7 separate regions of the Homo sapiens genome follow, and all the other regions are linked to region 3. The links come from fine-mapping of genetic effects on gene expression. A gene starts in region 3. Each other region holds a variant in brackets. All regions are shown on one strand. Distances are from middle to middle. Region 1 overlaps CSGALNACT1 (chondroitin sulfate N-acetylgalactosaminyltransferase 1). Region 2 holds the start of CSGALNACT1-AS1 (CSGALNACT1 antisense RNA 1). Region 3 holds the start of CSGALNACT1 (chondroitin sulfate N-acetylgalactosaminyltransferase 1). Region 4 overlaps CSGALNACT1 (chondroitin sulfate N-acetylgalactosaminyltransferase 1). Region 5 overlaps CSGALNACT1 (chondroitin sulfate N-acetylgalactosaminyltransferase 1). Region 6 overlaps CSGALNACT1 (chondroitin sulfate N-acetylgalactosaminyltransferase 1). Region 7 overlaps CSGALNACT1 (chondroitin sulfate N-acetylgalactosaminyltransferase 1).

Region 1 (4,066 bases), 37 kb before region 3:
ACAGAGTCTCATGCTGTCACCCAGGCTGGAAGGCAGTGGCACAATCTCAGCTCACTGCAACCTCTACCTCCCAGGTTCAAGTGATTCTCCTTGCCTCAGCCTCCCAAGTAGCTGGGATTACAGGTGCCTGCTGCCACACCCCTCTAATTTTTGTATTTTTGTATTTTTAGTAGAGATGGGGTTGTACCATGTTGGCCAGGCTAGTCTTGAACTCCTGAACTCAAGTGATCCACCCACCTCAGCCTCCCAAAGTGCTGAGTTTACAGGCGTGAGCCACCGAGCCTGGCCACAGGCTTTCTATTTCTCCTCCATTTTCCTATTTAAAAACTAGAAGCCAAAGATTGAATTTGCACAGTTCTTATGCTATAGCAACAAAACGCACAGTTGCAGCAAGTGAATCTGTGTTTTTAAAACACATTCTCTTTTCTTTTTTCTTGCCATCAATGTACTGTTTCTATTTCATATGAACTGATAATTATTATATGCAATGCTTTCCCATCATGAACACTTAGTCATTTTTTAAAAACATTGCTTTGATCATGTCACTTCCCCGGCCCAAAACATTACCCAGTTTGCAGTTGTTTGCCATTTAGCCATCTCTAAATCCACCCAAATTGCCTCCCATGCCTCCCACACACAAAGCTCTGCTCTGGCCAAACAGGACTTATTTGCATCCACTCTACCCTTGCCTCTTCTGCAAGGATCACCACGACCGTGAAGCCCTCTCAGACCACAGGAATGAACTTCCTCTCTCATCTGGATTCCTGTAACCCAAATTCCCCATCATGCTAAGATGTCCTGACGTATTATGGCTATTAACATACGCCCTGCAAGATCTCTCACCGTTGTAAAGAGTTAAGCTTCCCTTAAGTAACCATCTATCTCTGTCTTGTAGACACTGCGAACTGTGTAACAGAGTCTTTCCCTCCACCTGCTGACTGCTAAAACCTGAGAGCTAAATTTGTACCCTATTTCTACGAAGTACACAGGACCTGATACCACACATATACAATATACACATACACTATACAAAACAGTAACTTATACTTCAACCCTGGCTCAAATTATCACTTCCCATCCTTGTTTTCTCTTGGACTCATTTGTCTTTCTGATTTATATTTTATCTTGCCACATTGCATGCATTTTTTTGGAAGGTAGGATGAAAGTGAGTGAGAAAAAGCTAGAATTCTTTCCCATGCCTGGCACAGACTCCCTGTACTCCCTGTGATGCGAGGTTGACAAGTGGATCTTCTTATGCCGATATTTGTCATTATCTAAGGGGTATGTCTGGAAATAGGCACACATTCTTCAATCTGTCTCTGTTATGACCAACCAAAACTCAGGAGGCCTCAGAACCTGGGTACATTAAACATCACAAAGGTCTTGATGTAGGAATCTCCCATCGTTTTCAGAAAAAAACAACAAGACAATGGATGCCAGGAGCTAAATGTCCAAAATAGTTGTGTGATGATGGTAGGAGCAAATCAGCAAAAAATCCCTGTGTTGTTTCTTACTGGGATTCTAGACCTTGATCTTCCCCTCTTGGTATAAAGCTTCACGTCCACAGTTAAAGCCACTCATTCTGCAAGTGTCTGTCTGAGTCATTTCTACGTGGGAGGATGCCAGACAATGCCAGCTGCCTACATTCACCTCTCTTCTTTATGAGTAGCACCCCAATTTTGCTCCAGGCAGCCATACATTCTTCCTCATGAGAAAACAACAATGAAAAAACACCTCCCTCGCCTAGATCCCCTGCAGCTAAGTATTGCCACATGGCATACTTCTGGCCAGTGAGACATAAGCTGAAGCTCACTAGTTAGGGTCTTCCAAGAAAGCTATCATTTTTCTAATAATAGAAGGAGCACACTAGGCTGGCTCATCCCTTTTGACCTCACTTTTTGCCCTTTAGACTTCCTGGAAGGTGGATGTAATCACAGAGGTACAAGAGCCATTTTGCAAACCTGAGAATGATGAGAAAGGCAGAGGAGAAAGCTAAAGGGCACTGGTGACATGGAAGAGCCACTGTGCCAGTCTGGAGCCACTACCCCTGTCCTTCTCCTAGCACAAGAGAAGTGAAACCCCGCAATTCATGCCAGCATTTTAGGTTTTCCATTACAGGCAGCCAAAGTCAATCCCTAGTGATGTAGGGAGGCAGCGTGCTTAATAATAAGAGAGATAAATAAGACGCGATCCCAGTCCACACATGGTTCTCATGTATCAGGGAGAGATAAGAAACTCGGAGGAATAATCATAAAGCCTGATGGACCATGACAAGCACATAAGCCATAGCTGGGGTGCTCAAAAGAGTTCAGAGGAGGGAGAAATGGCTTCTAGCTAAAAGCA[T/A]TTAAATTGGGCCACTTCACACTAAAATATCACATTTATCCTACCTGGAGAGACACTGTTCAATCCAAGAGAATCAACCTCTCCTGGTAGAACTGTATGCATTACATGTCTTGGGAGGTAGTTTCGAGGAGTGGCTCCCTTCCCCGGACAGGGCTAAGGAGTGTGGCTGTGCCAGGCGTGGCATGGGAAGACATCATGCTGATTCTCTCTCTCCACCCTCCCTCCCCTCTACCTCCCATCCACTTGCTTGTTCTCAGAGCCCAAAAGGGAAAAAGCTTTCCTCCATCGCTCTCTGGATGACTCTGGTGCTGCTGGCTCATGCCCAAGAATGTCCTGGCCAAGCAGCATCCCAGAGGAGGGTTTTGGTTGCATGTTTTAAAACATCACAACGAAGCCCCTGATGAAGAATCTGAGCCAGATACCTGTCCCCAAGGGGGCCTGCTGAAGTGGTAAGGACGGCCCTGTGCAGAGGCCCTGAGACCTCAGATCTCATCTCCTATAGGAGCTGCACAGCCAGGACAGAGAAGAAAACACACACTGGGTTTTAAAGCACTGTTTCCCGGACCACACTAGGTGACAATAAACATGAGATCCAAGAATCAGTGACCAAACAGTATAGCCAGCCCTCTCCTTTTCTGCTGGAATTCAGTCACCTTGAAATGTTCCCCATTGGGTTCTCAGTTCAAGGCTCATACCCCAGAACCACATTGGAGATATCTGCCAGATTTTTCTCTTGAGTCCTAGTCCTGTCACCACCATTTCCAAAACCTGCTGTGAACAACATCCCGGAGACTGTGAAACTGATCTCCAGGCCCATGCAACAAGCCCAAGTCCCCAGCCAAGACCTCAAGCCCTCTGCCTACTCCACCCACCATGTATAGAAGGATTCTAATCAACAAAGTACAGAAATCACTGTTTGCACTCTGAAATCTGCAACTTCAAAAATATTTTACCCAAAACACATAGGCACAGACAACAACACATGAGACACGATCCTAGTCCGCACATGGTTCTCATGTATCAGGGGGAGATAAGAAACTCGGAGGAATAATCATAAAGCCTGATGGACCATGACAAGCACATGAGCCATAGCTGGGGTGCTCAAGAGAGTTCAGAGGAGGGAGAAATGGCTTCTAGCTAAAAGCATTTAAATTGGGCCACTTCACACTAAAATACCACATTCCATGACAAACACAGAATTCTGTCTGTCATGGAAAATGTTAAATTTGAAAAGACCGCCAAAGTCTTCTCATCATATCACATACTTGAGAAATATCACGCATTATGCTGAGAACACATTTATGCCTAATGAACTGCACGATATATGCAAATTAAAACATGCTAATTGGCTTTAGCTGTTCCTTTACATAAAGTCAATACTTCTATGGATCATTAAATGTATTCCTTTCATATTAATTTCAAAAGAAAAATTAATTGCTAAAAAAACAAATTCCCAGGTGTAGCCAATGTAAAGATTCAAATCTAAAATGTTGCTACAGTAAAACATTTACTGTGTCAGCTCCCAATACCTAGTAAGTCTTCGACTCAAGCAAAAAAAAGAAATTTCATATTGAATTTTTTTTTCTGTGATTTAAAACTGATTAATTCATGTTGGTTTAAATTCAATAGAAACCTTTTGCTTACATTTCAAATTTGTTTAAAATAAGCATTTAGTTATCTATCTTTTTTTCCTAATTAGATGAGAAAAAGAACATTAAAACCA
Region 2 (4,066 bases), 77 kb before region 3:
CAATTACTGGCCAACATGGTGATTCCCCAACTCTACTGAAAAACAAAAAATTAGCTGGATGTGGTGGTGGGCACCTATAATCCCAGCTACTTGGGAGGCTGACATGCTTGAGCCCAGGAGGTGGAAGCTGCAGTGAGCAGAATCGTGCCACTGCATTCTAGCCTTGGCCACCCTGAGACTCTTATCTCAAACAAACAAAAAAAAAAATTACCCCACTAAATGCTACTTAGTCATACTGCAAATATGTTTCCTAAATTGTTTTCTCAGGGACTAATCCCAAGTTTTAGGGAATCACTATTAACCTTAACACTCAGCATACCGGGGCAAAAAGGCCTAACAAGAAGTATCCAGACATCTCTGCATAGAGGGCTCTTTAGAATTAGCATGTAATACTGAAACCTAACAAACAGGCAAAGTTTTCGGATTGGGACTCCAGACTGAGAATTCTTCAAATAACCAACGACAGAGTACAAAAATGATTCCAGGATAAGTCACCAGGAAGGGTAACTATTACAGAAAGGTAGAACTCATTTTGTCCTCATAGCTAAGCAGTTACTGATTATGTCTGACGTAAATGCAAGTCAGGCACGTAATAGAAAATGTAAATAGGCTCCAGGAATGTCCCTGTGTCCCCAGCTCATTAAGCAGAGAAGAAAGTCCAAGACAAACAGTGTAAAGGAAAATGTCAACAATAAAGTCATCACTGGTGGGACCTCAAGGCAGCAGAGTGGAATCACAACTAGATCCTGCAATGTAACTAATCAAAATCTTATGAATTTTTTTTTACAAAGCAGAAATTCCATACGTTTTGACCCACGAAGGGGAGAGCTTCAGCACATGAAACAGATTCGTCTGGAGTAATAGGAAGTATGTCCAAATGAGGGAGGAGGCATCCAAAAGGACAAGACCTGGTAAGTGACACCAAGCAGGTAAGACCAGGAAGCCCTCATTATAATGACAGTAACTACAACAATAATAGAAACCAATGCAATTAGTGGTTACTCACTAACGGCCATCCCATGCTGGGAGCTTGACTGTCTCCTCTGGTATCACTTAATCCTGACATAAAGATTAAGTAGGAGATATCATTATCCCTATTCTATGAATAAGGAAACAGTCTTACAAACGTTATGCAATCAATAGTGTAGAAAAATTTCATAAAGACTTGAAAAACTTTCATAATTATTCTATGTACAGGAACTCTTCTTAAAGGTAAGGAAATTCAAGACAGCAGCAAAGCCATAAGAAACTTCCTCTTGGGTGCAGTGGCTCACACCTCTTATCCCAGCACTTTGGGAGGCCGAGTAACGTGGATCGCTTGAGCTCAGGAGTTCGAGGCCAGCCTGGGCAACATGATAAACCCCCGTTTCTACAAACAAAATACAAAAATTAGTGGGGTTTGGTGATGTGCATCTCTAGTCCCAGCTACTTGGGAGGCTGAGGTGAGAGAACTGGCTTGAGCTCAGGGAGGTCGAGGCTGCAATGAGCCATGATCATGCCACTGTACTCCAGCCTGGGCAACAGAGGGAGATCCTGCCTCAAAAAATAAAAAATAAAATAAAATAAAACACAAAGGGAAAATTCCAACAACTTAACCCATATACAGATCAATCTCATTTTAAGGTACTGACGCAGGATGCTGACAATGCTGATCAAATACCCCTGTAGCCACCTTTAAAAAGCTAGGATACTCGCTATTCTTCTTCAAATCGCCTTTCAACCTGTGCACAAAGGAAGGTCCGGCACCACCTGCTGTGACTCAAGACAGTCATGTGCCATCAATATTCACCAGCTACCCACAAACAGGTGCTGGTGCCCAAATTCCTTGGGTTATGAAAACGCCACTCTTAGGTTCTGACATACAAGAGGGTGGAAGAGGAAGCCAGAGTCCCGGCAACACTTTACCTGCGGCTTTATAGAAATAACTTCACACACTCTCATCTCAATTTCCTACCCTATAAAAGTGAGGAATGTGCACTGAATTCATAGACCTTCTGAGCTGGAAGGGGGCCTACATACCGGCTTAGAGTAGATTCAATTCATTTACAGGTTATAATGGACAAAGCACCCTTCCAGTAGCAAAATTCTAAAAATAGCCACGACAAACTTTAGTTCTGAAAGTTTACTTAACAAATTACTTGTTTGAAATTGGAAATATACTTCCCCACAGGAATAATGTTATAGATTTCTATGTCAACCTCCAAAAGCCTATTTCACTTGTAAACTACCTGAAATAGTATAGTTGGCCCCCTGCATCCATGGGCTCCTCTGCATCCATGGACTCAACCAACCACAGATAAAAAATATTTGGAAAAATAAAAATTAAAAAGACAAAAATTAAAAATAGTGCAAATATAGGCCTGGAATGGTGGCTCATGTCTGTAATCCCAGCGCTTTGGGAGGCCAAGGCAGGTGGATCACCTGAGGTCAGAAGTTCAAGACCAGCCTGGCCAAC[G/C]TGGCAAAACCCTGCCTGTACTAAAAATATAAAAATCAGCCGGGTGTGGTGGCGGGTGCCTGTAATCCCAGCTACCTGGGAGGCTGAGGCAGGACAATCACTTGAACCCAGGAGGTGGAGGTTGCAGTCAGCAGAGATCACACCACTGCACTCCAGCCTGGGCAACAAAGGAAGAATCTGCACCCTCGCCCCACCCCCCCCCCCCCCCACAAAAAAAGAGAATAGTGCAAATTTTAAATACAGTATAACAACTATTTACATAGCTCTTACACTGTGTTAGGTATTACAAGTAATCTAAGAGGTGATTTAAAGTAGTCATGTGTCACCGAATGACTGTGATAGGTCTGAGAGATCTATCATTAGGCAATTTCATCAGCACGTGAACATCAAAATGTACTCACACAAACCTACACGGTATTAGGTTTTTATTTATGTATATGTTTTCACATGGAAAAACAAATATCCCAGAACCATTACTGAATATCAACCATTTTTCCTACTTGATCTGCAATGCCACTATTTAGTGCCATATGTCAGGTTTCTACATATGCCCCATTATCTTATGGGACCACAGTTGTATATGTGGTCCCTTGTTGATGAAAACTGCGTGTGACTGTACAGACTGTATACAAGACGATGTGTGTAGGTTACACACCAATACTACTCCATGTTATACAAGGGACTTGGGCATCCAGATTTCAGTATCCCCAAAACTCCTGGAACCAATCCCCTGAAGATATGAAGGGACGACCTTACTACTATCACAAGGTCATAGAAGCTCATTGGGATACTAGGAAAGCATCTCCCACCTCCCTGCAGAGCCCCCACTGCCCCTGCCAAGCCACCAACACCAAGCAATAGGAAGAAATTCACAGCAAGGAAAGGAACAGAGTAAGAATGGAAACAGTAGAAAGGCAGGAATTGGATATGTGTAAGAGGTTGAGGCAAAGAATGAGAACTAGACCAGCAGATCCATAAATGCAGCGGGAGAGAGAGGCAAAGGGGGAAATGGTGCATCTGTCCTTCGCGCCCCCATCCCCATCGCTGGCTCCTCCATCACAGCAGACTTCTGTCGCCACCAGCACAACATTAAAAGGAAGAACTGGGGACCTAGGGACCTGGGAGGAGAGAGGTCAGAGCAGATACAAGACAAGTCTCCTGGGTCTGCATCAGGTAAGTGGTAAATCTGCAGGCGACATACTGCCCAAATCTAAAAATAACAAACAGACATTTCTAAAACCATAATTTGGTACGTCCAAGGGTTCCTACGCTTGAAGTGCCTGACCTCGGCACTTGCAGCACCTCATCTGGCCTGGATGTGCTTCCAAGTTCCCACTTGCTCCCTCAACTCCTCCCATCTCTGTCCCCTGCCCTGGGAATGCCAGGCTGGGCCAGAGTCTGGGCCCGTGCCCTGAGCACCATGCTCAGAAGGCACTGCTCACACCTTCTCTAGCCACACCATGTCATAGGGCAGAGTTCACAGGGCCCCCAAGACATGTTCACCTGGACACCACCCCACCTTCTGGGTCACACTCCAGGTCTCCCTGGGCCTGCTGCTTTACCTGCCAGTGTCCATTTTCTCAAGGGTGAAGCACTTCACCAGTTTGCATA
Region 3 (4,066 bases):
TGGAGGAAAGAGGAAAGATGAGGACCCTTGCAGACCTTACTGATATTTCTTTTTAATGTAATAACATGGCATTAAGAACAGAGCTAGAGCAACATGAAGATTGGTAAGTATCATTCATCATCATATGAACTTAGGATGGATTCTTAGGAAGATACAAGAAAAAGCTGAAGTATTGCCCCAAAGTTTCAACTCCTTATTTTCAACACCTATACTGGGCAGTATCTGAGATTCTCCAATAAATAATCAATAGATAAATGAATAGAAAGTAGGGTTACAAAGAAGAAGGAATTTTTACAATTTTTTTTAAATGTTGAAACATGCTGGAGTTGGGGATCCCTAAATGTAAAGAAAGACAAAAAAAAAAAAAAAAAAAAAAAAAGACAACATTTATGAAGTGCATACTGTGTGCTCGGGGCACTAGGATAAGTTCCCAAATGTAATTTCCTCCTGCTAAACATCTCTATAAGGTGAGGAATACTATTGGCATTTTACAAATTAGGACACCAAGGCTAGGAAAGGGGAAGTAACTTGCCCAAGGTCATGCAATTAATAAGTGGAAGAAGCCGCCTGGAGCTCAGGTCTCTGGAACAGCAAAGACACAAGCTCACTGCACTGTAATGTAAACGGATGAATCCAAATGTCGGAGATTCTGCTTTAAAACCCACTAATACATTTTACAAATAGACATATAAGATTTAGCACACAAAGATGAACAGGATTAAAGTATTTTGATATTGTATTATGTGGAGTACATATGGTGTGGCAGCTCAAGGCAGACGAATTATTAAATATGTACGGTGATCTTACAATGGGTATGGCCCGTCTCTTGCTTTCTAGGAATTGACCATCTTCCGGCAGCCCAACACCTAGTCCCCTGTGTATTATGCACTATTACAAAACGTGTTCAAGTCGCCTTTTATGCCTAAGGCTTACATAAAAATTCATCTTGCCTTTCTGCGTCTATTTCCAAGTTTGAAGGACCTTTCTCCCTCCAATTAGCAACATTTCAGCACTGCACAGGGCTTATTAATGCTCACTGTTGCAAGTAACACCAAGGTAATTTGACTTTCTTGTAGGAACAATGTCGACGAAATCCTACAGAATTAAATTTAAATTTCCAGTTTAAAAAAAAAAACCGTGAAAGAACACTTCATTACCTTTATTATCTAGACGTATCTAATGACGTTAAGTAAAAACTGCACCAAGGCTTTGAAACCAGAAGAAAAGTGGAGTTTGTGAAATTTAACCACTCCATGCTTTTTATTAGTATTTCACTTATGAGTATTTCCCGAGGCTCACTGTTTTGGCAGGCACAGTGCTGTTAACATCTCTTCCTTTCTCACCATTCTTTGCTCATCGATGAAAAGATAACTTCAAAATCTCTGACAGGAATGCAGGTGCAGGAAGTGCGACGGAAACAAACAACTTTGCCTCCGCTTCCTACAGCTTTCCTCTCCTCCCCGCCCTTCTAGCCCCCATCCCACCCCAAGATCATGCCCTCGAACAGCTTCTGCCCACCGATCGCACGTCCCCTGGGCATGTTCGGGCAGCGGTGACCCTCAGCCACATCCCCCACTAGCCCGGTCCCGGGCAGGCGAGCGCGCTGCCCACCGGCCACCCTCGTCACGCCCCCTCCACCCTCTCCATCCCAGCCACAATAATACAATAACCGCAGTCATCGCGCGGCACGTGGAAAGGCTACTTTTCAGTGGGTTTTGCAGAAAGCAATCAGACAGCGGAAGGCCACGAGAAACGCTGGTGAAGCCAAACCGACCCCGGGAGCGCAGCGGCCCCGGACCCTCCCTGGAAGCTCCCTCCGCGTCCCCGCGCGCCCACCTGGAGGCGCCGCGCCCTCCGCCTGCCAAGCCGGTCCCCGGCCCCTGCCCGTGCCCTGGGCCCCCGGCGGGCAGCGGCGGAGGGAGGCCAGGCGCGGCACCGTCCTCCGCAGCTGCACGAGCCACCCCGAGGTCGCGGGGTGGGCGGGCGCGAGCTAGGCGCGCGGGGCTGTGGGGATCTGCCGGCGCCACTGACGCCCCCGCGCGGCACACCGCGCCCGGCTGGCCCGGGAGGGGACCCGACTCACCCGAAGCGCCCTGCTAGCTGCCCGGCCCGGCTCCGGCCGCTGCCGCCGTCGCTGAACTTTCCCTCCTGCGCGGCCGCCGCGGACTCGGCTCCACCTCCCGCTCCGGCAGCCGCGGAGCCTCCAGGGACCCCGGGGGCGGGGAGCAGCGGCGGCGGCGGCGGCTCGGGCGGGCGGGCGCAACAGCGGCCAAGCCTGGCGCCCCGCCGCAGGGTAGGTCCGGCGGGGGCGGCCAAGGCCGGGCTGGGGTCGCGGTTGGCCGCGTACCTCCGCGTCACCCACGGCCTCTCTGCAGTGCGTCCCTGCGCCCGTCGGAGCGGCGCCCTGGCCGAAGCCTGTCACTCTCGGAAGGGGCCGCGCTCGGACACCAGGGGCGGTTTACGCGTGACTGGACACCAAGAGCCGGAGAAGTTTAGAGACTAGGACACTGTGGCGTGGCCCGAGTTGCAGGAGAGAGGTGTCCAATCTCCATGGGGTCCTTACTCTTGCAGGACAGAGTTCCCCATCCCCCTGCTCCACCCGCTCTGTTCCCTTGGCTGCCCTCCCCGCCGAGCGCCGACTTCCATGCAAAAACTTTGTAAATCGCACTTCGGGGAATTCACGCTTTAGTCGCGGTCTCTGCTGCCCTGGTCAGCTATAACGCCTCCCCTAGAGAGCTTTTACTTACAGCGAAGGTCAGGAACCCCTGTAACTCTCACACCGCACCACTGTGGGTAAGCGATGTCTGCAGGGACCCCTGACGGCCACTGGGAGGCCAGGAGAGAAGAGGGAGAGGAAAGGCTAAAAAGGCAAGTGGAGTGTTGGGTAATAAAAGATCCACCGCCACCTCCAGCACACACAGGCAGGCACCCTCCAGGGCCACAGGTCGCCTTTTATCTGTAAGTGCTCCAGCGCATCTCTGTGGGAGAGGGAGTTGGGAAATAGGATCGCCAATTTTCAGTGTAATTGAGGGGGACTCAGGAGGAGTCAGTTAGACTGGAAGAGGTCATCACCTGCAGATGCGGTTAAGCAACTTGCAGAGGCCCCAGGGCTGAGCCACCGCAGAACCGGAGCTGGAAACCAGTCCTATGACTCCTGAGGCAGTGCTCTTTCTACTACCTGGCCATGGCTCCTTCTACTGCCTGGCTCAGAGTCTCCATCTGGGAGATTCCGGCGCACCAGACTTTATTGTGGGCACAGGGTAGGCAGTCCTGAGGCTATAGGCACAGTCTTGAAGCAGCTCGGTTTCCATTAAGCTCCTGCTTACCTGCAGGAAGCATCCCTGAAGCAAGTTTTGCTTCCCACCTGGACTCCCCAGGTGGACCTATCCCCACCCCACACCCTGAGTGAACTCTTCACCCTCGTGACCTAATATACCCACTGCAATTCAATTGAGACTTGGGAAACAGGGAAGTGGGTGTTTTCCAAATGAATGAAAAATATGTCTATTCTGCTACTGCCCCAAAATGCTGCATAATGGAGGTAATAAATAGTTAACACAGCATACGTACACACATACATAGGTACAAGCCATTGGCCAAGGCTCCTTCCCACATTATCACACAGCACCCTCTTAAGGCAAATCATGATACTCCCCATTTTGCAGACGGAGGGCAGGACATGGAGGCTGGCGTTGGTTATGAGTTGTGTAAAGGTTAGAACCTTCACAGTCAAGCACTCTTTGGGTAACCAAGTAACCTCTTCAGAGCCTTCCCACTGCCACCGAAGCATTCCTACACCTCCCTATATTGGCAGGTGTGTTGTCAAAGCATTGATTTTCTTTCCTCTCCTGAAGCATCTCCCGTCCTTCTGCTCAGTGATATCTGCAGAATTAGAAAATACAGTTTCAGCATGGAATCTGGTCTGGAAGACAGCCCAGAGGACTTGAGCAGTAACTGCCAGGGCCCACCACAGACACACACGGTTGGACTCAGGTTCTAGACTATGTGGACAGGCTTGGGGAGGGTGGAGGAGGCGTCCTTGTTGCTGCAATTGGTTCTATAGCTG
Region 4 (4,066 bases), 89 kb before region 3:
AATAGAAGGGTTTGGTTAATTACACCTGGGATAATGAATAACTAAAAATGTGTTCTTCGCTACGTAAACAGAACACATTCTCTATTCATTTACAGTTAACATTTCAACTTCCTCTTAGTCTCACCTCCCAGGACAAGATCAATGGACCTACATTCATCTAACCACATTGTCGATTTTCCAGGCTTCTTATTTTCTCCATCTTTTTTCTAGTTGAAGATTCCTCATTGTTTTAGACTTTCTTCATCACAGCTCTCACATGGCAGTCCAGATTTGGGTTATTTTTAATCTTTTTGGAGTTATTTCAAGTTGTTTGTCTAGTTTAAATCCAGGCAGACTTCAAGATTTTTCCCTTTGTTCCTGTACAACACTGGTGAAAGGAGGGTGCTCCACGGAAGCTGGATTTGAATGCTAGAAAAGGAACAAGGTATTCTAACAGTGTTCTTGCCACAACTTTCACCGTCAGACCTTAAAATCTGAGTGCTGTAGGGAAATTAAAACCATCTATTGTCCTCATATTATAACTAGAGGAATAGAAGCCCAGACAAAATCAAACAACTTGCTCCAGCTCCCATGAAGAAAACCCTGTCTCTTCTACTTCTTCCTATTCTATTTAGCTACTTCACCCAATTCATCTATTAACATTTTCTCAGCCAGGTGTGGTTGCTCACACCTGTAATCCCAGCACTTTTGGAGGCTGAGGCGGGTGAATCACTTCAGGTCAGGAGTTCAGACCAGCCTGGCCATCATGATGAAACCCTGTCTCTACTAAAAAATATAAAGATTAGCCAGGTGTGGTGGTGAGTGCCTGTAATCCCAGCTACTCAGGAGGGAGAGGAGGTGGGCGGATAGCTTCAACCCAGGAGGCAGAGGTTACAGTGAGCCGATATTGTGCTACTGCACTCCAGCCTAATTGACAAACCAAGACTGTCCCGGGAGAGAAAGAGAGAAAAGACACAAAGAAAGACAAGAAAGAAACACAAGAAACAAGAAAGAAAGAAGAAAGAAAGAAAGAAAGAAAGAAAGAAAGAAAGAAAGAAAGAAAGAAAGAGAGAGAGAGAGAGAGAGAGAGAAAGAAAGAAAGAAAGAAAGAAAGAAAGAAAGAAAGAAAGAAAGAAAGAAAGAGAGAGAGGAAGTGAGGAAGGGAGGAAGGGAGGAAGGGAGAGACAGAGAGAGAGAGAAAAAGAAAGAAAGAAAGAAAGAAAGAAAGAAAGAAAGAAAGAAAGAAAGAAAGAAAGAAAGAAAGAAAGAAAGAAAGGAAGGAAGGAAGGAAGGAAGGAAGAAAGAAAGAAAGAAAGAAAGAAAGAAAGAAAGAAAGAAAGAAAGAAAGAAAGAAAGGGAAAGAAATCTCATCACAATATCAAAAGACATAATTTCAGCCAGGTGCACAGGCTCATGCCTGTAATCCCAGCAAGTTGTGAGGCAGAAGTGGGTGGATCGCTTGAGCTCTGGAGTTTGAGACCAGCCTGCCAAACATGGCGAAACCCCATCTCTACCAAAAAAAAAAAAAAAAAAATACAAAAATTAGCTGGGTGTTGTGGCACATGCCCCTCATTCCAGCTACTCAGGAGGCTGAGGTTAGGGGGACTGCTTGAGCCCAGGAGGTTGAGGCTGAAGTGAGCTGAGATCACACCACTGCACTCCAGCCTGAGCAATAGAGCAAGACCCTGTCTCAAAAAACAAAAATCAAGACATTATTTCTATTCTACCTTAGTGCTTAAAGAGTGAAGTGATTTAATTATGACTTCTCACAACGGTAAGAGAACAATGAACTGCAATGAGAGAGTCA[G/C]TCGTGTTCCACCCCCTTTGAACCAAGGCTGATGAATTATGAACAAGTCAAGGCCCTTAATGCAACATGACCACAAAACGGCAGTAAGGAGAAGGTACTTGAAACCCTAAGACTAACGTCTCTTCCTCAGATCAGGAGAGCTTTCAAAGAGCTGCAAAGGTCATTTGCTGCTTCGTGATCAAAAATGTAAAAATCATAGGCCATAAATCACTAACTTAAGCCACAGAAAATGTAATGTAAGATTATACCATCCACATATTTTCATTATAAGGGTATTACATACTGGTAAGAATTCAAAAATCTGATAAAGCATATAAAAAAGTATTAAACTCAATGAACGATCATGGAATTTCCTCCAACTAAATATTTTAAGAAGAAATAGAATTAAAGCGCAGATCACAACTGTGAAAATGAGCATAGTGAAGTTGAACTGAAGGAAACCTAACCATTCAAATATTAGAAGAAGCTAGAAAGTAAGAATATAAAAACTTGACCAGCATATATTACATCCTTTAACTTTTCCAGAGAGAGAAATACAACTGGCTCCCAAATATGAAACATGGTCATCTACACAATGAAAAATAGTTTTCATAGATTTTTCCTATATTTTGTTCAAAAATGCAAAAAAGGAATGGTAAAATCACACAGCATCTCATCACTGCTTTCCTCTGTTCCTTTAATTGCACCCTCATCTCTGCAGTCACCTCAGGGACAAAGTTTGGGGACAGACACCCCTCAGCTTCCTTAGCCACTCATAGCTCAATCTCTGTCTTGCACATACATGCACGGTTACACACACACACACACACAACTTTATCAAAAAAGGCAATCATTCCACATGAGCCTTTGTTTTTGTAATTTTAGAATTTAAAAACTAAAAAATTATTAAGAAGTTGAATCCTTAAGTAACATAAGAAAAAAGTATTCTTAAATAACTGATCAATTACTTCATGAGTAAACTCAAACCCAAAGATTCCTAGCTGTATACATCTAAAATGCCAATCTATTTTATTTTCATTTTTGAGACCAAGTCTTGCTCTGTCACACAGGTTGGAATGTAGTGGCATGATCTTGGCTCACTACAACCTCCACCTCCTCAGTTCAAGCAATTCTCCTGCCTCAGCCTCCCAAGTAGCTGGCATTAAAGGCGAGCGCCACCATGCCTGGCTGATTTTTGGATTATTAGGAGATGGGGTCTCACCATGTTGCCCAGGCTGGTCTTGAACTCCTGACCTCAGGTGATCCACCAGACTAGGCCTCACAAAGTGCTGGGATTACAGGAGTGAGCCACTGTGCCCGGCCTGCCAATTTATTTAAAATGGGAAAATGGGATCAATCACGTTGGATAAGGAACACCCTTCTTGAAATACTAGGAAACCTTTTGAAATACTGTAATAATCTATGAATTTCCAGTGATCAAAGTATTCATTTCTCACCAAAATGCTTCTGCAGAAAAACAACTTATTACAGATGAATATTTACAGGCTCTCAAACAAATTCTGTGTAAAACAAAAGGTCTCAGATACAGCAGGCTTCTTGGAGTCTAGACATGTGGATTTCATTCAAAAGTATGTTGATCATTTGCTATTTGGCTTTGAGAAAATAATTTAATCATTGAAAATTTACCTCCATTTCCCCAATAGGAATTTGAGTAGATTTGCAAATGCAAGCACTAGTCTAACCCAGCAGACATGCAACCACAGAAGAGGAAAATGACTACCATCTATGTTTCTGGAAGCAAACAACTTTCTCTTCAATTTTATTAATATGTACCCTTGCTTAATAAATTTCATCCCGAGATGGAGGACACTATCATAAAAACTACAAACATTCAAAGCACATGGTTACTCTACCAAACCAAATAAAAACTGTAAACCGTTTCTAATTTTTTTGTTGTTGTTTGTTTGGTTTTTATTTTGGAGATGGAGTCTCCCTCTGTCACCCAGGCTGGAGTGCAGTGGCACGACCTTCCTTCACTGCAACTTCTCCCTCCCAGGTTCAAGCGATTCTCCTCCTTCAGCCTCCTGAGTAGCTGGGATTAATAGGTGCCTGCCACCATGCCTGGCCAGTTTTTTGTTTGTTTGTTTTTGTTTTGTTTTTTTTAGTAGAGATGGGGGTTTCACCACATTGGCCAGGCTGGTCTCAAACTCCTGACCTCCAATAATTCACTGGCCTTGGCCTGCCAAAGTGCTGGGATTACAGGCATGGGCCACTGTGCCCAGCTGTAAACCATGTCTTTCAGAAGCCATTTCTAATGTTGTGGCAACATTAATTTGCATG
Region 5 (4,066 bases), 350 kb before region 3:
AGTAACCCTTCTCCTTCAGATAGATTAAGTTTTGAGAATGACAAAAAGAACAACAGTGTACATGACGGCTTCATCATCTTTACTGTATTGCCTATAATAGCCATCTGATTATATCCAAGCAGCACTGGGCATACCGAGAAGCTTAACAGACACTGCCAGATACACATTTGTACATGTGGAATTGTGTGCTGAATACTAACAACACCTACCGTGTGCCTGATGTTTCCTAAGTGCTTCATACATATGAACCCATTTAATCTTTAAAACAACTGCATGATATACAAGGATTGAATCCATCACCCTGAATGAGGACATCAAGGTATGAAGACATCTAGCAACTCCTTTAAGATCCTGTAAATTGCAAATAAAATAACTGGAATCTGAACCCAGGTTGTCTGGCTGGAAAAACCATGATATCAACTACTCTACTGCGCTGAACCCCTATTACGTAAAATTAGATAAGACGATTTTTCCTGAAACAAAAACATTACTAAAATTAGATTCCGGGTAGCTATTTTCCTAGGCCTGATCTTCATCAGTGATGTGGAAAGGGGCAGTCAACCACATTTATAAATACAAAGAGGGGCTAGGAAGTAGATCACTGCAGAGAAAACAGCCCAGGTAGCCCAGGTATGTCACTTAGAGGCAATGATATGTGGATATAATTTAACAATGGGCCAGGCCTAGGGGCCCAGAGGTGGTAAGGATGGCTGATTGGCAGCATTTGCCAATTGCCAGTTTCCATGGTGTAAATACTTCCACCGTGATGGATTTCAAGCTACCACCCTGTCAACACGGAGTGAGGACTGGAAAGAAGTGCTGAAAACTGGCTCCCACGAGGCTGTACCAGTACACCACCGCCTGGAGGAGACCTCCACTGTATTAGAAAGCCCAGCTCAGTAAGATAACCTGTGCTGGTCACTGGACAATTTAGGGATAGGAACAGAGAGAGCATGCAGAGTTGGAAGGGGCCTTAGGCAAGCCCAAGACTCACTGTTTTCTCAGCAGCATCCTTGAGAATGTGCGACGTGACTGGGTTCTTGAAACCACTGTTCCGATACTGCTTTCCTTTGCTAAGTTTAAATTCCAGCCTCCTAATTCTAATGTTTTCGTGGGACCTTCTACAATCCTTCTTTTCTGTATGTCTTGGGCAGGCAAAGGGGGGTATTCTCCACTAGCATGTTGCTAAAGAGGGCCTCTACCCTTTAATGAAACTGTTTTACCTGAATAAGCTTTGAAAAAGAAATACCGTAGTTGAATATTATGCTGTCCCATCTCCTCATCAGCTACTCTCCACAACTTTAAAAAACCCAATTCTTAATTCTTAACTACACAGCCATAAAAAAGAAAAAAATAATGTCTTTTGCAGCAACATGGATGGAACAGGAGACTATTCTCCTAAACGAATCAACACAAGAACAGAAAACCAAACACTGCATGTTCTTACTTACAAGTGGGAGCTAAATGCTAAGAACCCATGAACACAAAGAAGGGAACAAAAGACACCGGGGCCTACTTGAGGGTGGACTGTGGGAGGAGGGTGAGGACTGAAAAATACGTGCTGCAGTTATTACCTGGGTGACCGAAGAATCTGCACACCAG[A/G]CCCCCGCAACACGCATTTTACCCATGTGACAAATCAGCACAGGAACCTCCTAAAAAGTTGGAAAGGAAAAAAATTCTTCACCACTGTCTTGGGCATCTGTGATATGAAATGTAAACAAGCACAAAAATGGCTGATGAGCCCACAGAGTGCAGCCCGGATGGGACCACCTGTGAGACTCTCAGACCTGTCCAGTTCCACAGTCAGAATATTGGATTGCCACTGCCAGCCTCATTAGACACCCATCCTTCTTACGCTGGGAGGATATGGACAAGAGCATGCAGGGCACTCACCACAAATCCATCAGAACCATGCCAGAGACAGGCCAAACACATGCCCTGAAGTTACTAGTATCATCAGAGCACAGAAAAAAGTATATATATTTGAGACCAGGTCTCACTCTGTTACCCAGGCTGGAGTGCAGTGGTGCAATCAGGGCTCACCACTGCAGCCTTGACCTCCTGGACTCAAGTGATCCTCCCACCTCAGCCTCCTGAGTATATGGGACTACAGGTGTGTACCACCACACCTAATTATGTATTTTTTTGTAGAGACAGGGTCTCACTATGTTGCCCAGGCTGGTCTCAAACTCCCAGGCTCAAGCGATCCTCCCACTTTGACCTCCCAAGGTGCTGGGATTACAGGCATTAACCACAGTGCCCAGCCACACGTGACAATATTAAGCACAGAGTTGAAAGGGGCCTTGGAAATCATTTCTCAATTTCCTCTAATGAAAACAGACAAGTTAATGTATTAATAATTCAGGTTTTTCATTATGGTTCTCTTCTCCCTCTAGCCCCGTGGTTCTTAACCAGGGGTGATTTCCCCTCAGAGGACATTTGAGCATGACTGGAGACAATCTGATTGTCAAAACTGGGTGGGAGATGCTCCTGGCCTCTAGTGGGTATAGGCTCGGGATGTGGTTAAACATCCCACAGTATAGAAGACAGCCCTCCACAGCAAAGAGTTATCTAGTCTAACGTGTCAGTAGTGCCAAGGCTGAGAAACCATGGTCCATGCACAATATACTATTTCCAAAAACTAAACAAAATGACATTCTTACTCCACAAAGCAGTCATATCCACAAATCATATTTTATTAGCTGTGCAATACCACCTTCCATTCATGGCCTGTGTTTTAATTAAATTTCATAAACTACCAGTACAAATCAATACAATGCATTTTTTAACACACCAACAGCTTGAATGTTCTTGAAGCTTTTAAACAATGAGTTTACTGTGAGCAAACAGAAGCAAGGACTCAAAGAGATAATTAGCTCATGCATCTGGTGCTGGCTAATAATTTTCACATGAATGAAGAAACCACTCTATGTTAACTGTATTTATTTTTAAAAAATAGTTTGAAATGGTAATAAAATGCAATTTTCAGAAGCATCTTGGTGATCGAGTAGAACTGCTTAATTTAAAAAATAATTCAGTTACTTCCACCTGGCCTGGGGTGGATAACATGTAGCAAAAACTTCCATCCCACTAGATTCTGGCAGATGGATTGATCTTTCACAATATATATATATATATTTTTTTCTCCATTTCTTCTTATGGAAGCCAGAAGCCAGGAGGAGCACCCTGTTTTGAAAAGAGATTGTTTGGTTCACACGGTATACTTTGGTTTATTTAAACAGGTAAGAAAGCGGTCCCTACTTCTGAGGAGAAAATGTGGTTTCTGACTTTTAGGTACATCACGATATCACCAGTCTGAATGAGTTTCCTTTTCTGTAAAGCAGAAAGTGTCATTTTCTTTTCCTCCAGTGTTCAGTTGCTCCTCTTCGAAAATACTCTTCAGAGAAAGTATCTGTACGTCTGTATTAGTACAAACCATTCCTTCCCTATGTCTCAATGCCTGACATTCAGTGCCTGACAGAATCAGCATTTGGCATGTCCTTGGATATGGCATCAATTTGATGCTTTGAACTGAAAGTTCTCATAATGCATCTCAAAGTATCTTCTTAAAAAATATAAAAATGTAGGCCAACTTGTGCTCTCTTGTAAGGCTTGCAAAGTGGTAATTAAATAAGCAGACTATAACTCACAAGGGAAAAAAAGTGCATTTTTAAATAAAAGAAAAAAACGGAGACAGTTAAAAGGACAACCAAAAAGATAAGCAGATTATTTTTGGTTAATCTTGGGGAAAATATGACACGATATTTATGGTTTCTTTTCTTTTCTGGTCCATTTTATTTTACTTAATGTACTCACTAGTATCATAATAAGCCTATCTCCTCTCCTGCCTTCTGATATTTTAGCATTCCTAGAAACTAGAGCCCTGCTGATAGGCTCATTCATATGAGGAGAAATATGCTTGCCTTTCATGCTAATGAATTTTTTACAAAACTGCTCTTAAATCATGAATATTTCAATGAGCACACAAAACAACAGGTCTCAGTGTGTTGTAAACACCATCAAAACCTCCACACCATTAGGCTTATAATCTCACAAGCATTCTGCC
Region 6 (4,066 bases), 300 kb before region 3:
ATCCTCAGTGTCAACCACAGTTCACAGTCTCCAGTCTGGGGATGGAAAGGAATTTATAAAGACAACATCAAATATTTATTAAGCAGCCCTTTATATTTTCTCCCAGTAACTTTATGGTCATGTTAATTGCATTTAATTATTTAATTGGAGTTTACTTTGCTTTTTTGGTGTGAAATAAGAATCACATTTTTTTCTGCTATGTTTGGCTAGTTGTCCTGACACCATGCCCTGAATAACCCCTTCTTTGGGTTTGAAATGCCATCTTTAATAAGGTTTTATGAAGCATTAAATACCCACAGGTATTTACCCTCTCGCATCCCAGTTTTTCAGAGACATCAACAGTCTCAGAAATGCCTTGACTGTGACATAAACTCCCTACTCAGCCTCCTGCTCCAGTGTCAGCTGTCCTGGCCAGATTCTCTTTGTGTCCCATTGTCCCCTGTCTGTATCTCTGCCACAGCGCCTGGCTCTGCATTTGCAGCTTCTGCTATTAGTGAAAGTAGGCACCGCATCTTCAATTCATCTTCTGATCCCCTGCACCTTGGTAGCATGTCTAGCACATGCAAAAGGCTCTCAAAACATCCTCTCCAGGTCACAAGTCTTCCGCCACCCATCCCTTCCTACCTCCACGAGCAAGGGACATCCAAATAGTAAAAGTCCATATGGTGGGCTGAGATGAATCAGCTCAAGGCAAACTGCCCTGGGATTTTTGTGTTCTTTTAAAACATTAACTGGAATCACGTTTCATTTCACCCGTTTTGAGGCTTGTAAGCTACTCATTTGACTATTCTCAATGAAACTTCCCTTCCTGTTTTCCTGTTTTATTGCTATTGTTAATTGCTTAAAATTCTGCTGACACTAAGGAAATAGCTGTTCATATATACCCAAGAGAATCCTGCTATTTCAGGCCCAGGAGTCCTACAGTGAGGACTTGTCCTTTCACCGAGCAGATACTTCTTTAGTGTAAGCACCACCTCAGCAAGCCTAACATGTCCAAGGACTCAGAGAATCAAAGCTCAGGACCCTGAACCCAGTAAGACATAGGCAGCTTCTTTGCCAAATGAACTTGCGATAACCTCGTCCTAGAAATGGGCATTCTAGCTGCTGAGAGTAATGATTTCACTTAATGCCTAATGCAAACCACATTCAGGTTCAACAACTGCATTCAGAACGCCGCAGGTTCAGTCATTCTGGAGATGTAATGTTTAATCAACCAGCGGCACTGTGCCATTCCAAAGGGAAAACCTACAGAGAAAGAGAGCAAAAACACTAAAAGAAGGTTGAAAGAAGCCAAAACTATAAAAACACTCACTTCAGGACTGGAGCCAGAGGAACACTGCAAACAATTATGCGATCATGCACAAAGGAGTATTCTACAAACTGGGAAAAGATCAATCTATTAGCCCACTCTACTTTGGATTACATCATGGCTAAAGGCAAGCTCCAGCTAATTAAAAGAAATTTACGAACTAGGGAATATGAAAAAGCTAAGGGAATTGAGAACTGCTATACCTTGGAAAGAAAAGACTAGGGGAGTTGTGATGACCACCTTCAAATATTTGAAAACTTATGATGTTTAAGAAGAAATAGACTTGTTCAGTCCTCCAGAGGCTAGAATTAGACCCACCAGGCAGAAAAGACATGGAAGCCGACTTCAGGCATAAACAATAAAGAACTTCCTATCCAGAGATGATCAACAAAGCAGCAGCTTGACTAGTAATGTAGGCAGCTTCCTGGTGCACACACACATTGCCTAGAGAACCCTACGTCAGAAAGACAGTCTCAATTAAGGGAAGATTAGACCAGATGACCTCAAAGGTCTAAGACTATTTGATTCTAATCTTCAAAAAACTTAGTTATAAGTGGGTTATCCTTTAAATTCAAACAGAGTACGCTCATGAACCAGAATTTTGAAAGGTATCAACCACACCCTTATACTGAACATTATGCCTTTCAATAATGTAAATTTACTAAGATTAAAAATCAAGGCTGGGCACGGTGGCTCACGCCTGTAATCCCAGCATTTTGAGAGGCCGAGGTGAGCAGATCACCTGAGATCAGGAGTTCAAGACTAGCCCGGCCAAAATGGCGAAACCCGGTCTCTACTAAAAATGCAAAAATTAGCCGGGCATGGTAATGGGCATCTGTAATCCCAGCTACTTGGGAAGCTGAGGCAGGA[G/T]AATTACCTGAACCTGGGAGGTGAAGGTTGCAGTGAGCAGAGTTCGTGCCACTGCACTCCAGCCTGGGTGACAGAGTAAGACTCCATCTCAAAAAAAAAGAAATAAAAAATCAGCTTGATCTTTCAAGATTTATAATTAGACAGTAGGATTTTCTATGTTTAAAACAAGCTGGTGAAATCACTTAGCTGGTTATCCTCAGCCAATATGTGCATCTGAGCCATCACAGCTTCTAAGATCCAACACCGCACAATCAAGGGCTTAAAGGCACACATCTAAAAACTTCATCAGCAGGCCTGAAAAATGAAACCCAGCTTAGTCTCATTGAGTAGCTACAAAAATGTGGGCTTGAAACCTTCTTGGTATAATTCTACACTTAAGTCTAAGATGATGCAGGTTACAATAAAAGATAGATTTGGATTCAATGCATTGCAGCCACCACTAGAACAGGACAGCAGGTGAAGGCAGCCTAGAGCCAATCAAGAACACCTTGCATAGCTCGCCAACTGTCAACGTGGGCTCTGCCACCACCAGCTCCTCTCTCCTCCTCAAGACTCAAGGCTGCTCACTTGCCTGGGAGTCTTGGTTCCTGCTATCCCCAAACCTGAGCCCCTCCGCAAGTCAGAATGAACATAACAGGCATTCAGTCATCTTTGTAGATCCTGGTGAAAACCCAGTCCTTCCTGCTTTTCACTTCTGAAGGTCAATATGCTTGTAAGGCAGTTTTCTAATTGCTCTAGGGAAAGGCAAATACAAATGATAAACTTTACGTGGAGAAAACAGAGCTGAATAAGAGAAAGGAGGCTTTGTACTCGGCAGGGGAAATGAAGGAGATGACGGGAAATGATATCAGTGTTCTAACACACATCATGCGGAGGAAGATAAACACGTGCGAACAAACCAACCTGAAATTCTGCATGAACTGCCGGAACTTGTCCACCCTTTTTGCTAGAGGCACGATAACATTGATAAGCGTGTTGGCCATGTTGAGCTTTTCATTTTTCACTTTCATGATGGGGCCGAATGGTCGAAATAAGATGAGCCGTTTGAATTCGTGTTTGTGGTCCCCTTTGAAGGTGAGCTCATACAATGTCCCTTTGTCCCTTTCTGTTCGGTAGATCCCTGTTAAGAGAAAAACAAGGAAAGATAGTTCTAAAAATTAACCTTGGCTGCTGAGTGTTTTTCAACCGAGATCTAGCACAGAATGCCTTTAAAAAGTGTTTAAGATGAAATCTCTCCAACAATTATTCGAAAATTCAAAATGCTCCCAATTAAAAAATTCCAAAAGAAGTCAAAATAGCATGAATTTTAAAATCACAGTTATGAAGACTGCATAAAAACATGGGAAAAAGCTTGAAATGCTGGATACAAACTGTATTCATAGGATACAGAGGCATTTGCAAAAGGATTTTTAGGAAACAGGCCAAAATAAGACTGACTATGATATAGAGTGGGATTATGTGTTTTTTTCTTTTCTTCTAGTATCCAAATTTCCTGCAATATGATTTGAAGAATATTAAAATAATTATACTTAATTTTAAAAATCAGCAATAAAATTATGTCTTAGAAATTAAACCACTTCAGCCTGGGCGCAGTGGCTCATGCCTATAAACCCAGTACTTTGAGAGACTGAGGTGGGCATATCACCTGAGGTTAAGAGTCTGAGAACAGCCTGGTCACTATGGTGAAACCCCATCTCTACTAATACAAAAGTTAGTAGAGCGTCATGTTGTGCGCCTGTAACCCTGGCTACTTGGGAGGCTGAGGCAGGAGAATCGCTTGAACTCGGGAGGCAGAGGTTGGAGTGAGCCAAGTTTGTACCACTTCACTCCAGTATGGGCAACAGAGCGAAACTTTATCTCAAAAAAAAAAAAAAAAAAAAAAAAAGG
Region 7 (4,066 bases), 53 kb before region 3:
AAATACTGCTTGAACCATCATTATAGCCTCCTAACAGATGCCCTTGTTTCTGATCCCTCCTCTTCACCATCCATCACACCACCATTGCAAGATGAATCTCTCTACAGTGGAGCTCTGAGCCCCTCACAGCCCTTCCCAAAGGTATTCAGTGGATCCCTAGAGCCAAACTCTGGGCCAGGTGCAATGGCTCACACCTGTAATCCCAATGCTTTGGGAGGCTGAGGCAGAAGGATTCCTTCTGAGACCAGCCTGGGCAACATAGTGAGACCTCATCTCTACAATAAAATTAAAATTTAAATATTAGTTGAGGATACACCTGTAGTCCCAGCTACTTGGGAGGCTGAGGCTGGAGGATCAATTCAGCCCAGGAGTTGAAGGCTGCAGTGAGCTATAATCACACCACTGCACTCCAGTTTAGGTGTCAGGGTCTATGTCTCTAAAAAAAAACTTAATTAATTTTTTAAAATTCAAATTCTTCAACCTGCATCTGCTCCCAGCCCTTTCCCACCTTTCCAGCACTCCCCTTCCCAAGCAAAACCCTCCAGCCAAACTAAGCACTGGTTGTCCCCTGCATGCACCTGGAATGCTCCATCTCAGTCCTTGTCACAGACTGCTCTGTTGGCCAGACACCCATCTTCTCCCATCCATCACCCAGTTCCATGTGTCTATACCAGACCTCGTCCTCAAGACTCAAGTCACATACCATGTCAATGACTCCTTCTGGACAAGGGCTGAGCTGCCATGGATCTAGTGCAGAAGGAAAAGCTCTGGGTTTCAGGGTCTCCCCTAAAGGGAATCAGTGTAGCCCAGCCCCCCACCCAGTAGCCCCCACTTAGACCAGGGCCAATGACTAGATCCACTTCTTCCCCTACACCCCTCTTAGCCCCCTTCCTGGTGTGGGTTCACTTCCCTTTATATCTCATCTGATCAACATGATCACCGTGGACAGAATTCAAGCTCAAAAGGGAAACCTGTAACCCTATGGATGTCTGAGGCAGGGGAAGAAGGGAGGTCATTGGGAAGTGCTCACTAGTGTCCCTCCAATAGGATGCTACTGTCTTCTGATCTATTACCAAAATAACCCAAGACCCTGAAATCGAGAGCTTTTCCTTCTCAACTAGACCCATGGCAGCTCAGCCCTTGTTCAGAAGGAGCCATTGACGTGGCATGTGACTTGGGATTTGAGCCACTCGAAGTTGTTACATAATAAGAACAGGCTGACCTCTCTTGGTTTGTTGGTTGGTTGGTTTTGAGACGCCATCTCACTCTGTCACCCAGGCTAGAGTGCAGCGGCGGGATCTCAGCTCACTGCAAGCTCTGCCTTCCAGGTTCATGCCATTCTCCTGCCTCAGCCTCCTGAGTAGCTGGGACTACAGGCACCTGCCACCAAGCCCGGCTAATTTTCTGTATTTTTAGTACAGACAGGTTTTCACCATGTTAGCCAGGATGGTCTTGATCTCCTGACCTCATGATCCACCCGCCTGGGCCTCCCAAAGTGCTGGGATTACCGGTGGGTGTGAGCCACCATGCCCAGCCCTCTCTTTGTTTTTAGTGCTCCTCAGACCTTCAGGTAACTGGAGAGTTGGTTACTACTGACTGCACAGCACCTTCCACAGTAAAACAAAGTTTAATCAATACAAGAAATCCTCTCATGGTCTGCATGTCTCCCTGATTGATACAAAGTTATCAGATTCATTCACTCAGAACAACATATTCTACACCAAGTAATTT[T/A]TGTGATTAAGTTTAGTTCTCTACAAAGTACGTTACAATTAACAGTGTTTTTTAGGAAACTGCCCATGCACTGGCTTTCCTCCCTTATCCTACACGCAGCTCTCAGGAGCCTCTTACATAGTACGGGTGCATATCTGGCAGTGACATCTTTCCTGAGAGCTGTCAGACCCTTGAGGGTATCATCTATGTCTGATTTGCTCTTCCAGCCCCACTCAGTAAGCCTAACACACTACACTGCACATGGGAGATCTTACTTTTTAAAGTTTTGAATGAATGAAAGAATGAGAATGCTCTGAATTAACCAAGCTTGATGGTTAATTACATAATTACATGGATCATTCTTATTCTCTTCTCTCCCTCCTTTCCTCTCTTCCATTTCCCCCAGTCCCTGGAAAAACAAGGCACTAAACGAATGTGCTGCCAAAGGAGAAAGAAGAAAGGTAACAGGGCATTTGAATCACAGACCCTTCCAGGCCGATATTATATTGTTAGATGGAGAAGAAATTTTGAATTTTTCCAAAGTACCATTAATACTTTTTAAAAATAAATTTCTTGCATATCAAAACCACAGTCATCTATCACTTCACACCTTAAGATGGCTGTGATGAAAAAGTCAAAAATATCAAGTGTTGTCGAGGACTTGGAGAAAAGGGAATCCATATACATTGTTGATAGGAGTGTAAATTGGTATAGCCATTATGGAAAACAGTATTGAGGTTCTTCAAAAATTAAAAATGGAACTACTCTATGATCCAGCACTCTCACTTCTGGGTATATACACAAGGAAATAAAATCACTTTTTCAAAGAGATACCTGCACTATTTTCACTGCAGCATTATTCACAATAAGATATGGAAACAATTTAAGTACCCATAGACGGATGGATGGATGGATGGGTGGATAAATGGATGGATGGATGGAGAAAATGTGATATATACATAAAACAGAATATTATTTACCTTAAAAAAGTAGAAAATCCTGCCATTTGTGATAACAAGGATGAACCTGGAGGACATTATGCTAAGTGAAACAACCTAGACATGGAAAGAAAAACATTGCTCAATCTCATTTCAATATGGAAGTTTTAAAAGTTGAACTCAAACAGACTAAAAGGGTAGTTACTGTGTGAAAACAGAGTTGGGAAATGGGGAGATTTTGCTTAAATGATGCAAACTTTCCATTACAAGATGAATAAGTTCTGGTAACCTACATCATAGTGACTGTAGTTAATACACGTATTGCCCACTTAAAATGTGCTAAGAGGGTAGATCTTAAGTATTTGCACCACAAAAAGGTACTATGTGAGGTGATAATTAGCTTGATTATGGTAATCATTTCACAACATATACCAAAGCATCACATTGTACACCTTAACTGTATGTAATTTTTGCCAATTATACTTCAATAAACTTGGGGGAAAAACAAATAGAAAGTAAATCAGTAATTCTACCTTAAGGATAGTAACTCAAGGGTAGCTATTTATGCAAAGACTTACATCAAGAATTCCATTAACTCAGGGAAAAACTGGAAACAATTTAAATGTTCAATAATTATTTTCTAATGCATTTTTATGCATCCATTCAATGACATGTTTTTGAATAATATTTAGAAGGAAAAAGCTCATCATTTGAATTTTAAAATCCAGGGAAGGCTGGGCACAGTGGCTCATACTTGTAATCCTAACACTTTGGGAGGCTGAGGCAGGAGGCAGGAGGCTTAAGCCCAGGAGCTCAAGACCAGCTTAGGCAATATGATGAAACACCATCTCTACAAAAAATACAAAAAATTAGCCGGGCATGGTGGTGCATGCCCATAGTCCCAACTACTCGGAAGCCTGAGGTGGGAGGATTGCCTGAGCCGGGGAGGGGGAGGCTGCAGTGAGCTGAGATCGCACTACTTCACTCCAGCCTAGGCAACAGAGCGAGACCCAGTCTCAAAAAAAAATCCAGAGAAAAAAATGTAAGGCTAGAGTTTCAAAAATTGTACATGACATATTATGAATAGATGTTTAATATATAAATACAACCATAAACATAAAAGTAAAGCAACATTCCAGAATGTTGATGCTAGTTAAAGCTGAATAATCGAATGACAGGGCACGACTAATTTTCATTTTCTTTCATTTCCTCGATTATCTTCAATTACCTTGTATTACTTGATTATCTGAATCCCCGAACCTCCCCTCCAACATGAAGACAAAGGCAAAAAAATCTGGAGGTGCAGTAGCTACAAATAAACCCAGACATGGAAAAATACTAATCAGATCAAATAAAAACTAAAATAGATTTCTCCACCTCCCAATCATACAGGGCCCTTACAAAGCAAATAGCATGCA

Evidence for each region. PIP is the estimated chance that this variant, and not a neighbour inherited with it, causes the effect.
Region 1: its variant is fine-mapped to the expression of CSGALNACT1 in esophagus muscle (GTEx, PIP 0.94).
Region 2: its variant is fine-mapped to the expression of CSGALNACT1 in thyroid (GTEx, PIP above 0.99).
Region 4: its variant is fine-mapped to the expression of CSGALNACT1 in whole blood (TOPMed, PIP above 0.99).
Region 5: its variant is fine-mapped to the expression of CSGALNACT1 in whole blood (INTERVAL, PIP 0.98).
Region 6: its variant is fine-mapped to the expression of CSGALNACT1 in whole blood (TOPMed, PIP above 0.99). The same link has a PIP of 0.9 or more in amygdala, anterior cingulate cortex, atrial appendage, breast, caudate and cerebral cortex.
Region 7: its variant is fine-mapped to the expression of CSGALNACT1 in monocytes after LPS (Quach 2016, PIP 0.95).

Annotation. Positions count from the first base shown.
Region 1 is chr8:19,718,114-19,722,179 of GRCh38, forward strand. The region is part of intron 1 of CSGALNACT1 (chondroitin sulfate N-acetylgalactosaminyltransferase 1); the gene reads right to left. Among named protein-coding and RNA genes, the nearest start is that of CSGALNACT1, 37 kb to the right of the region's middle. The variant T/A (reference allele first, on the strand shown) is at 2,344.
Region 2 is chr8:19,677,917-19,681,982 of GRCh38, forward strand. The region is part of intron 1 of CSGALNACT1 (chondroitin sulfate N-acetylgalactosaminyltransferase 1); the gene reads right to left. CSGALNACT1-AS1 (CSGALNACT1 antisense RNA 1) reads left to right here and starts at 629. Exons shown (of 2, transcript XR_007060841.1): 1 at 629-911. RefSeq lists an enhancer at 1,379-1,979. The variant G/C (reference allele first, on the strand shown) is at 2,456.
Region 3 is chr8:19,755,103-19,759,168 of GRCh38, forward strand. CSGALNACT1 (chondroitin sulfate N-acetylgalactosaminyltransferase 1) reads right to left here and starts at 2,175. Exons shown (of 9, transcript NM_001354483.2): 1 at 2,084-2,175.
Region 4 is chr8:19,665,765-19,669,830 of GRCh38, forward strand. The region is part of intron 1 of CSGALNACT1 (chondroitin sulfate N-acetylgalactosaminyltransferase 1); the gene reads right to left. Among named protein-coding and RNA genes, the nearest start is that of CSGALNACT1-AS1, 11 kb to the right of the region's middle. The variant G/C (reference allele first, on the strand shown) is at 1,787.
Region 5 is chr8:19,401,486-19,405,551 of GRCh38, forward strand. CSGALNACT1 (chondroitin sulfate N-acetylgalactosaminyltransferase 1) reads right to left here. Exons shown (of 9, transcript NM_001354483.2): 9 at 2,676-4,066. Among named protein-coding and RNA genes, the nearest start is that of SH2D4A, 90 kb to the left of the region's middle. RefSeq lists an enhancer at 3,976-4,066. The variant A/G (reference allele first, on the strand shown) is at 1,603.
Region 6 is chr8:19,455,344-19,459,409 of GRCh38, forward strand. It overlaps CSGALNACT1 (chondroitin sulfate N-acetylgalactosaminyltransferase 1), which reads right to left. Exons shown (of 9, transcript NM_001354483.2): 4 at 3,083-3,299. Among named protein-coding and RNA genes, the nearest start is that of SH2D4A, 140 kb to the left of the region's middle. The variant G/T (reference allele first, on the strand shown) is at 2,180.
Region 7 is chr8:19,702,071-19,706,136 of GRCh38, forward strand. The region is part of intron 1 of CSGALNACT1 (chondroitin sulfate N-acetylgalactosaminyltransferase 1); the gene reads right to left. Among named protein-coding and RNA genes, the nearest start is that of CSGALNACT1-AS1, 26 kb to the left of the region's middle. The variant T/A (reference allele first, on the strand shown) is at 1,732.